3 separate regions of the Homo sapiens genome follow, and regions 1 and 3 are each linked to region 2. Evidence: fine-mapped expression QTL. A gene starts in region 2. Each other region holds a variant in brackets. All regions are shown on one strand. Distances are between the middles of the regions. Region 1 has its middle 10 kb from the start of PLBD2. Region 2 holds the start of SDSL (serine dehydratase like). Region 3 overlaps PLBD2 (phospholipase B domain containing 2).

Region 1 (2,760 bases), 74 kb after region 2:
GTAAGGCAAGGGCAGGAGAGGTTTTTTATAAGGGATTTCCACAAAAAGTTGTTTCGGAGGCAGTTCATTGGCTGGGCGGAAATCCTCTATCGCAAGCCCATTCTGATTGGTTAGTTCATTAGGGTACTCCCAGCTAAGAGAGGTTGAAGGCGGTGGATTCTGACTTCAATTGTTAGCCAAACCGACTGGCACATTCTGCGATTTGACCTTCAGCCGGTGTGAGTGCGATCCTCCCACGGTCTCCCGACTCCCACTTTAGAAAGCCTTAGTTGTAGCTGCCTCATTTTCTTTCACGATATTGACATAATTCCTTCCCTCCCCGTCCCCTCCTGCACACTCACGAATGAAAGCTGGGGAAGAGCAGGCAGCTGGGGTTTTGGGGTGTGAGGTGTTGTCCCCTCCTCTGAGGCCTGATAACTGACAGCTGGGGCGGGACAAGATCAGGACCAAGTGTTGGGCAAGGTTGGGTAGGCGTCTGTGTCCCTGGAGGTCAGGAACAGAGGGAGCAAGGGAAGGAGGGAGGGGCCCGGCCTTGAAGGAGTAGGTGGAGGCCTCTGGAGATGGCCAGGGACACTGGGGAGTCACAGCTGGGCAGAGGACAGGCTGCGATCTGAGGACTGCTGAGGCAAATCCCAGCCGACCCAGCTGGCCTGGTGACCCCTGCACTGCTAGAAGCTCCCCAGAAATCATTCCTTCCTCAGCCTCTCCTGGAGGGTGAAAGGAAACCAGAGTCCCCCAGACAAGGGACACACAGCGGTCCTCAGCTGTGCTGATGGTCAAGAGCTGCATTGCTCCCACATTTGACGATCAAGACTTAAATTATTTTCTGGCCAGCTGCAGGGGCTCATGCCTGTAATCCCAGCACTCTGCGAGGCCGAGGCAGGCGGATCACTTGAGGTCAGGAGTTCGAGACCAGCCTGGCCAACATGGTGAAACCCTGTCTCTACTAAAAATACCAAAATTAGCCAAGCGTAGTGGCAGTCACCTGTAATCCCAGCTACTCGGGAGGCTGAGACATGAGAATGGCTTGAACCTGGGAAATGGAGGTTGCAGTGAGCCAAGATTGTGCCACTGTATTCCAGCCTGAGCAAGAGAGAGAGATTGTCTCAGAAAAAAAAAAAAAAAAAAATTTACCAAACAGGCTGGACACAATGGCTCTGTGCCTGGAATCTCAGCACTTTGGGAGGTTGAGGCGGGAGGATCACTTGAGCCCAGGAGTTCAGGACCAGCCTGGGCAAGATGATGAGACTGTGTTTCTCCAAAAAAAAAAAAAAAAAAAAAAAATTACAAATAAAAAATAAATCACCAGCCAGAAGCAAGGGCAATCAGCGTTTTCACCAGGCAGCGGTGTGGGGTGATGGTTAGGAGTGTGACAGTTGATTATATACAAAGTGAGTCATTCTTGTCATATCCAGGCAGAGAAGGCACTCAGAGCACATGGCACCTGCTCCAAGAATTAAATTTTGCAGAAGCCCAGCTGCTGAAACTGCCTGTTGTTACCCTAAGACTAGTTTTATCTCATAGCTACTGAAACACCCTGCTGCAACTCTAAGAGTAGCTTTACCCACCCCTGTGAC[T/G]CACCAATCACAGCTTCCAGCTCCCCAAAACTTTGCTAGTGCCAATGAACTTTTTTTCAAGACAATACGTTTCGGTTTTTTTTGAGACGGGGCCTTGCTCTGTTGCCCAGGTTGAACTGCAGTGGTGTGATCGTAGCTTACTGCAGCCTCAACCTCCTGGACACAAGCGATCCTCCTGCTTCAGCCTCCCAAATAGCTGAGACTACTGGCATGCGCCACAATGCCTGGCTAATTTTTATTTTTATTTTTGGTAGAGTGGGTTCTCACTGTGTTGATCAGGCTAGTCTCAAACTCCTGGGCTCAAATGATCCTCCTGCCTAGGCCTTCCATAGCACTGAGATTACAGGCATGAGCCACCATGACCAGCCCCTTTCTCCTTTTTATAAAACATCCAACCTGCTCTTTGTTCTTCAAACATACTGAAAACCACCCAATCTATGTGTATGCCCCATATTGTAATTCTTCCTTCCCAAATAAAACGCTAAATTTAGAGAGTCATCACTGTATTTTTATTTTGACTTCAGCAGGAGCATGGAGTTGTGGAGTCAGACAGAATTGAGTTCTAAATCCAGCTCCACTATTTGCTGGCTGTGTGACCTTAGGAAAGCGACCTTCCCTCGCTGAGCCTGGAAGAAATGAAAGCCTCTCCACACTGGCCCCTAGTGCCACCTCCTTAGACCTTCAGCATGCTTGCAGTCACAGACAAAGGGCAGACTTCACATCTCAGTATCTTGGTCTGTCTACCTCCTTTCCCCAGCCCCTGTCCAGGGGCCACCCCCCACTTCCAGCCAGTTTTTGAGGTCCCTACCATCCAAGGCCACCAGGCAGGCTGAAAAGATAGAGCTCCCCAGGCAGAAAGCACCCTGTATTAGTCCATTTTCATACTGTTATAAAGAACTGCCAGAGACTGAGTAATTTATAAAGAAAAGAGGTTTAATTGACTCGCAGTTCGGCATGGCTGGGGAGGCCTCAGGAAACTTACAATCATGGCAGAAGGCACCTCTTCACAGGGTGGCAGGAAGGAGAAATGAATGCAGGAGGATCTACCAAACACTTATAAAACCATCAGGTCCCATGAGAACTCACTCACTATCATGAGAACAGTATGGGGGAACCACCCCCCATGATTCAATCACCTCCACCTGGTCTCTCCTTTGACATATGGGGATTACGGGGATTACCA
Region 2 (2,760 bases):
TGTACATGGCAGGACTATTGTGAGGATTCAATGAGCCTGCATGGTAAGGGCACCCATGTTGGGTGTCTGTCCACTTGGAATTGGGTCTCTCTTCCTTTTTGGTGAAATCCCCAGATTTTTCCCCTGGGGATCCTGGGATTGTCAGGATGAACTCCCCCTACTCCATAATCCTTCCGCTTTCTTGTTTTTTTGGTGTTTGTTTTAGAGACAAGGTCTCACTCTGTTGCCTGGGCTGGAGTGCAGTGGCACGATCATGGCTCACTGTAACCTTGAAGTCCCGGGCTCAAGCAATCCTCCCACCTCAGCTTCCTGAGTAGCTGGAACTGTAGACATGCACCACTGTATCCGGCTGATATTTTAATTTTTATAGAGATGCAGTTTTGCTGAGTTGTCCAGGCTGGTCTTGAACTCCTGGCCTCAGGTAAATCTCTTGTCTCTGCCTCTCAAAACACTAGGATAACAGGTGTGAGCCACCTGTTGGCTCACAACAGATGAGTCATTAACTCACCATTGACTCCATTTTATAAACAGTGAACCTGAGGTCCAGAGAGATTAAGTAACTTATCCAAGTTCACACAGTTAGAAACAGCATAGCCAGAATTCACACCAGGCAGTGTCTTTGGCATCTGTGCTATTAACCGCGATGCTATACTTTCTCTAATATACTAGTGTTATCGTTACTATTATGAAAGCTGCATGCATTTAATATTTATTGCCAATTGTCCTTTGGAACCAAATGCTCCTGGCTCAGTTTCCAGGCTTCCCCAGCCCTCTTGGTTATACTGACTCACAAGAGGACAGCAGGCATCAGTTAAATGAAAAAGCCCCAAGTTGCCAACAGCCTTATCAACCCCAGACCCCATCAGGCACCTGAGGTCTGGGACTGAGCTGTCTTGGCCCAGGGACACACACCTCTTGTCCCGTATGGCAGCCACCAGGGCTGAAATGGGGGACCTGGGTCTCCCTGCTGTGGAATAACCCAGGGGAAAGCAGGGGGCTCAGGCTCAGGTCCCAGTCATGCCAACCTTGGCCAAGTCACTTTTGTCACTGGGCCTTACCTGTCACATCTATGAGTTGAGGTAAGGACCACCAGTGCTGTCCACCTCACTTGTCCCCAAAGCCTTTCCCCAGAGGCCACCTTGGTGGCACTCCACAGCCAAATCCCTGGTGCCAGGGCTGGGACACCTCGGGCTGGCCCCTTGGCTGGCAGAATGCCCAACCCTGCCCCTCTGGCAGGCAGAACCCACTCTCGCCCTTCAGGGTCCCCAGCACAACACTTTCTTCTGCAGGGCACCCTGAATTCAATCGACATTCCCAGGAGGGCCTAGAACACGCTCAGGCCCTCTCACTCCCACCTGCTCAGCTTGGACTTTGCCCAAAGCCTCCCAAACTCCTGCAGCCTCTCATCAGCCTCTCATTCACACACACACTGAGCCCCAGGGGCCCCAGCTGGCCCCAGACCCCTTACCTCCCTGCCCAACTATCCCAGACCAGCGTGGCCCCAGCTCCTGCCCTCCAGCCTGCCAGGGAACCAGCTCTTTCCAGGAACCGGCTCTGTCCAGCTTCAGGCAGCTTCCGGCAACCTTGGTCCCTCCTCCTTTGTTAAAGAGAAAGCTCCAGACCCTAAGCCTCCGGGTGAAGACGGAGGAGGAGAGGGGATGAGAGCAACCCTCACCGCTTTCCCGGGCACTGCCTATGACTCATGCACCACCCTGTCTCATTTGACAGATGAGCAAACTGAAACTCAGAAAAGGGAACTTATTTGGCCAAAGCTTCCCAGACAGCAAGGGGCAGAGACAGCCTTTACCCCTGGCCCTGGGCCATCTCTTCCGGGATGCAGGCATCTCCATGTCTTCTCATTTTAGGTCTAGTGATTGTCCCGGATGCTGAACCACTGTTGGGGTCAGCTTAGGTCTGGGATGGGAAAACAAGGACAAGGGAACTTTTTTTTTTTGAGACACAGTTTCATTCTTGTCCCCCAGGCTGGAGTGCAATGGTGCGATCTCGGCTCACTGTTACCTCCGCCTCCTGGATTCAAGCGATTCTCCCACTTCAGCCTCCCAAGTAGCCAGGTTTACAGGCACCCACCACCACGCCAGCTAATTTTTGTATTTTTAGTAGGGACAGGGTTTGACCATGTTGGCCAGGCCAGTCTCGAACTCCTGTCCTCAGGTGATCTGCTTGCCTCTGCCTCCCAAAGTGCTGGGATTACAGGCGTGAGCCACTGCACCTGGCCAAGGAAACAATTATTATAATTATTATTTGTGACATGGGAAAGGTATATTTTTGTCTGAAGCACCTCTCCGTCTCGGATATTTTACACGCAGCATGAGAACCCAAGCAATTATTTGCTACTCAGATGAATGACTGACCATTCATTCATTCATTAAATGTTTATTGGACACCTACTATGTGCCAATCCCTGGAACTTTGGCCTCAAACAAAATAGCATGTCCTCTGCCTTCACAAAGCCCTTAGAGAGGGCCATTAGAGAGCACTTATTAGTGCTATCAGATGTTAGCAGCTGGCAGGGTGGGGCAGGGCTGTGGAACCCAGAGCAGGCACCCCGCCTGGCCCTGGGGGGCTGGGGAGGCTTCCTGGAGGAGGGGAAGTCTGAGTGGAGCCAGGAGTCAGGCACAGGGAGTGCAAAGGTCTGGAAATGAAAAACATGATATATTCCAGGGTCAGGGTAGTATCCAGTGGGGCTGGGAGGGAGAAGGCAGGGGTGGGGAAGCAAGTGGGGTTGAGGCTGGAGATGTG
Region 3 (2,760 bases), 59 kb after region 2:
CACTGTACTCCAGTCCAGACAATAGAGCAAGATGCTGTCTCATTAAAAAAAAAAAAAGAATCTGAGGGGGTAGGAGTTTGAGGAGACCCGGCGAGTGTGATGATGGGAGGAAGATTATAACAGGGCCCAATATGCAGATCCCCTCGTGATAAAAGCTGGCAGTGGATCAAAGGAGACCTCGGACAAACTGCGTAAAACCAAAAAAGCTGTGCAGCCGCGAGCCCCAGTAGTAACTGAGCGGCCAGTGGCCTCCTCCAGGGCACACCTGGTGAGAGCTACCCCTTCTAGCAAGGGTGGGCTCAGCCAAGGCCTCGGCACTGAGGCCCCGGAGACGGGCAGTGGTTAGGAACCCATTCCCTGGCCGGATGCTCATACAGCCCTGCAGAGATGGGCATAAAGGCCCTTCTTCACAGCAGGACTTCTCTTCAAAGCCAGAAAAGACGGGCCTTCCCGAAACACCCATCATTAGGGGCCTGATACAATAATCACACATGCCATAGCGGACTGCATGTGCTGATGAGCAAAGAGGTCAGAGATGAAGTTCAAAAAAAAGTCGAGAAGTCCAAATGGTAGGCACGAACTAAGCCCCTGTGTAAATGCATCACACACCACATATGCCTCTACATTTATATGTATGCAAGAAGGTTTAGGCCTCTTTATGCATAGAAAATTCTGGAAGAAAGAGCTAAAAGTCCGGGTGCAGTGGCTCACGCCTGTAATCCCAACACTCTGGGAGGCTGAGGCGGGTGGATCATGAGGTCAGGAGATCGAGACCATCTTGGCTAACATGGTGAAACCCCGTCTCTACTAAAAATACAAAAAATTAGCCGGGCGTGGGGGCGGGCACCTGTAGTCCCAGCTACTCGGGAGGCTGAGGCAGGAGAATGGCGTGAACCCGGGAGGCGGAGCTTGCAGCGACCCGAAATCGCGCCACTGACTCCAGCCTGGGCAACAGGGCGAGACTCCACCTCAAAAAAAAAAAAAAAAAAAGCTAAAAATGTTTATATCTAGGAAGAATGGTAGGGGGAGGCTTTTACTTCCCATATCCCATCCCCTCTTTCTAAACTGCTAGAAATTTGTTTTGTTTTGTTTTGTTTGAGATAGGGTCTCACTCTGTCACCCAGGCTGGAGTGCACTGGCGTGATCACAGCTCAGTGTAGCCTCACCTGGACTCAAGCAGTCCTCCCGTCTCAGCTTCTGAGTAGCTGGAACTACAGGCACGCACCACCGTGCCCAGCTAGTTTTTTATATTTTTTGCAGAGATAGGGTCTCACCATGTTGCCCAGGCTGGTCTCAAACTCCTGGGCTCAAGCAATCCTCCTGCCTCGGCCTCCCAAAGTGCTGGCATTACAGGCACAAGCCACAGCGCCCGGCCAGA[A/G]AAACACTTTAGAGTGTGTCTATAACTAGATGTGCTTATTAAAGACTACTCTTCGGCCAGGCACAATAGCTCACACCTGTAATCCCAGCACTTTGGGAGGCTGAGGTGGGCAGATCACCTGACGTCAGGAGTTCAAGACCAGCCTGGCCAACATGGTGAAACCCCATCTCTATTAAAATTACAAAAAAAAAAAAAAAATTAGCTGGGTATAGTGGCTCACACCTGTAATCCCAGCTACTAGGGAGGCTGAGGCAGGAAGATCACTTGAACCCAGGAGGCGGAGGTTGCAATGAGCCAAGATCATGCCACTGCACTCCAGCCTGGGTAACAGAGCAGACTCTATCTCAAAAAAAAAAAATAAATCAAAAGAAGATTACTCCTTATTCAGAGAGTATGTCCTTTCTGCTTGTTTGCTCTAAAATTGCCAATCTTTTATGAGATAAACGCTGACAGGGGTTGACAAATATTGCTCTCCTTTGTTTTTAATGCACTTGCTTGACAAAAATTAAAAGTTGGCAGCAGTAGGTCTGTTTCCTCAATCTTTTTTTTTTTTTCCTGGAAAATCTATGGGCCAAATTGCAATTTCATGCCAGGGGCAGCTAATGTCTCTAAGATGACTCAAGAGTCTAATCAAGGTGCCTCTTGAAAGAGGCCACATTGGAAAAAGTCAGACCACTGATATGAGCAGGGGGCCACAAATATCTCACAAATATCAGCACCCCACTTCCGCAGTCTAGTATGGCCTTGGATGCTCTCCATTATGTGGGATGCCCCCCATAACTGTGTCTATCACTCCTATCTCAGCCTTTTTTTTTTTTTATTTGAGACAGGGTCTCACTCTGTTGCCCAGGCTGGAGTGCAGTGGCACAATCACAGCTGACTGCAGCCTCGACTTCCCAGGCTCAAACGAGTAGCTGGGACCACAGGCATGCGCAACCACACCCAGCTAATTTTTTACTTTTTTTTTGCAGAGACAGGGTTTCACCACATTGCCCAAGCTGGTCTCGAAATCCTGGCCCCTCGCCATCCTCCTGCCTCGGTCTCCCAAAACATTGGGATTACAGGCATGAGCTACAGCGCCTGTCCTCCTTTCTCATTCTTGATGGTATAGATTCATCTCCTGTGATTGTTCAAAGAAACAGCTGGGCCTTATTTATCCATTTTACTGGGCTGTTTTTGCCTGTTGGTTGGTGGATTTGGGATGCTTCCCCGTTTACTAAATTTGTTAATTCCCTCTAACTTTGATTCACTTCCTCTCTCAACGGGATGGTGATTTACTTTAAGCAACCTCGTCGATAAGGTGCTGGTCAGTGGGATCAGATCAGGGAAGGAAGACAAAGTAAGGTTGGAGGATACAGCTTCCCCAGGACCAAGGCCAGAGC

Evidence for each region. PIP is the estimated chance that this variant, and not a neighbour inherited with it, causes the effect.
Region 1: its variant is the best candidate, but not a certain one, in a credible set for the expression of SDSL in whole blood (INTERVAL, PIP 0.73).
Region 3: its variant is the best candidate, but not a certain one, in a credible set for the expression of SDSL in whole blood (INTERVAL, PIP 0.76).

The regions. Positions count from the first base shown.
Region 1 is chr12:113,346,764-113,349,523 of GRCh38, reverse strand. No RefSeq gene overlaps it. Among named protein-coding and RNA genes, the nearest start is that of PLBD2, 10 kb to the left of the region's middle. The variant T/G (reference allele first, on the strand shown) is at 1,578.
Region 2 is chr12:113,421,186-113,423,945 of GRCh38, reverse strand. SDSL (serine dehydratase like) reads right to left here and starts at 1,566. Exons shown (of 8, transcript NM_001304993.2): 1 at 1,469-1,566.
Region 3 is chr12:113,361,768-113,364,527 of GRCh38, reverse strand. All of the region lies in intron 1 of PLBD2 (phospholipase B domain containing 2), which reads right to left. Among named protein-coding and RNA genes, the nearest start is that of PLBD2, 4.6 kb to the right of the region's middle. RefSeq lists an enhancer at 317-817. The variant A/G (reference allele first, on the strand shown) is at 1,379.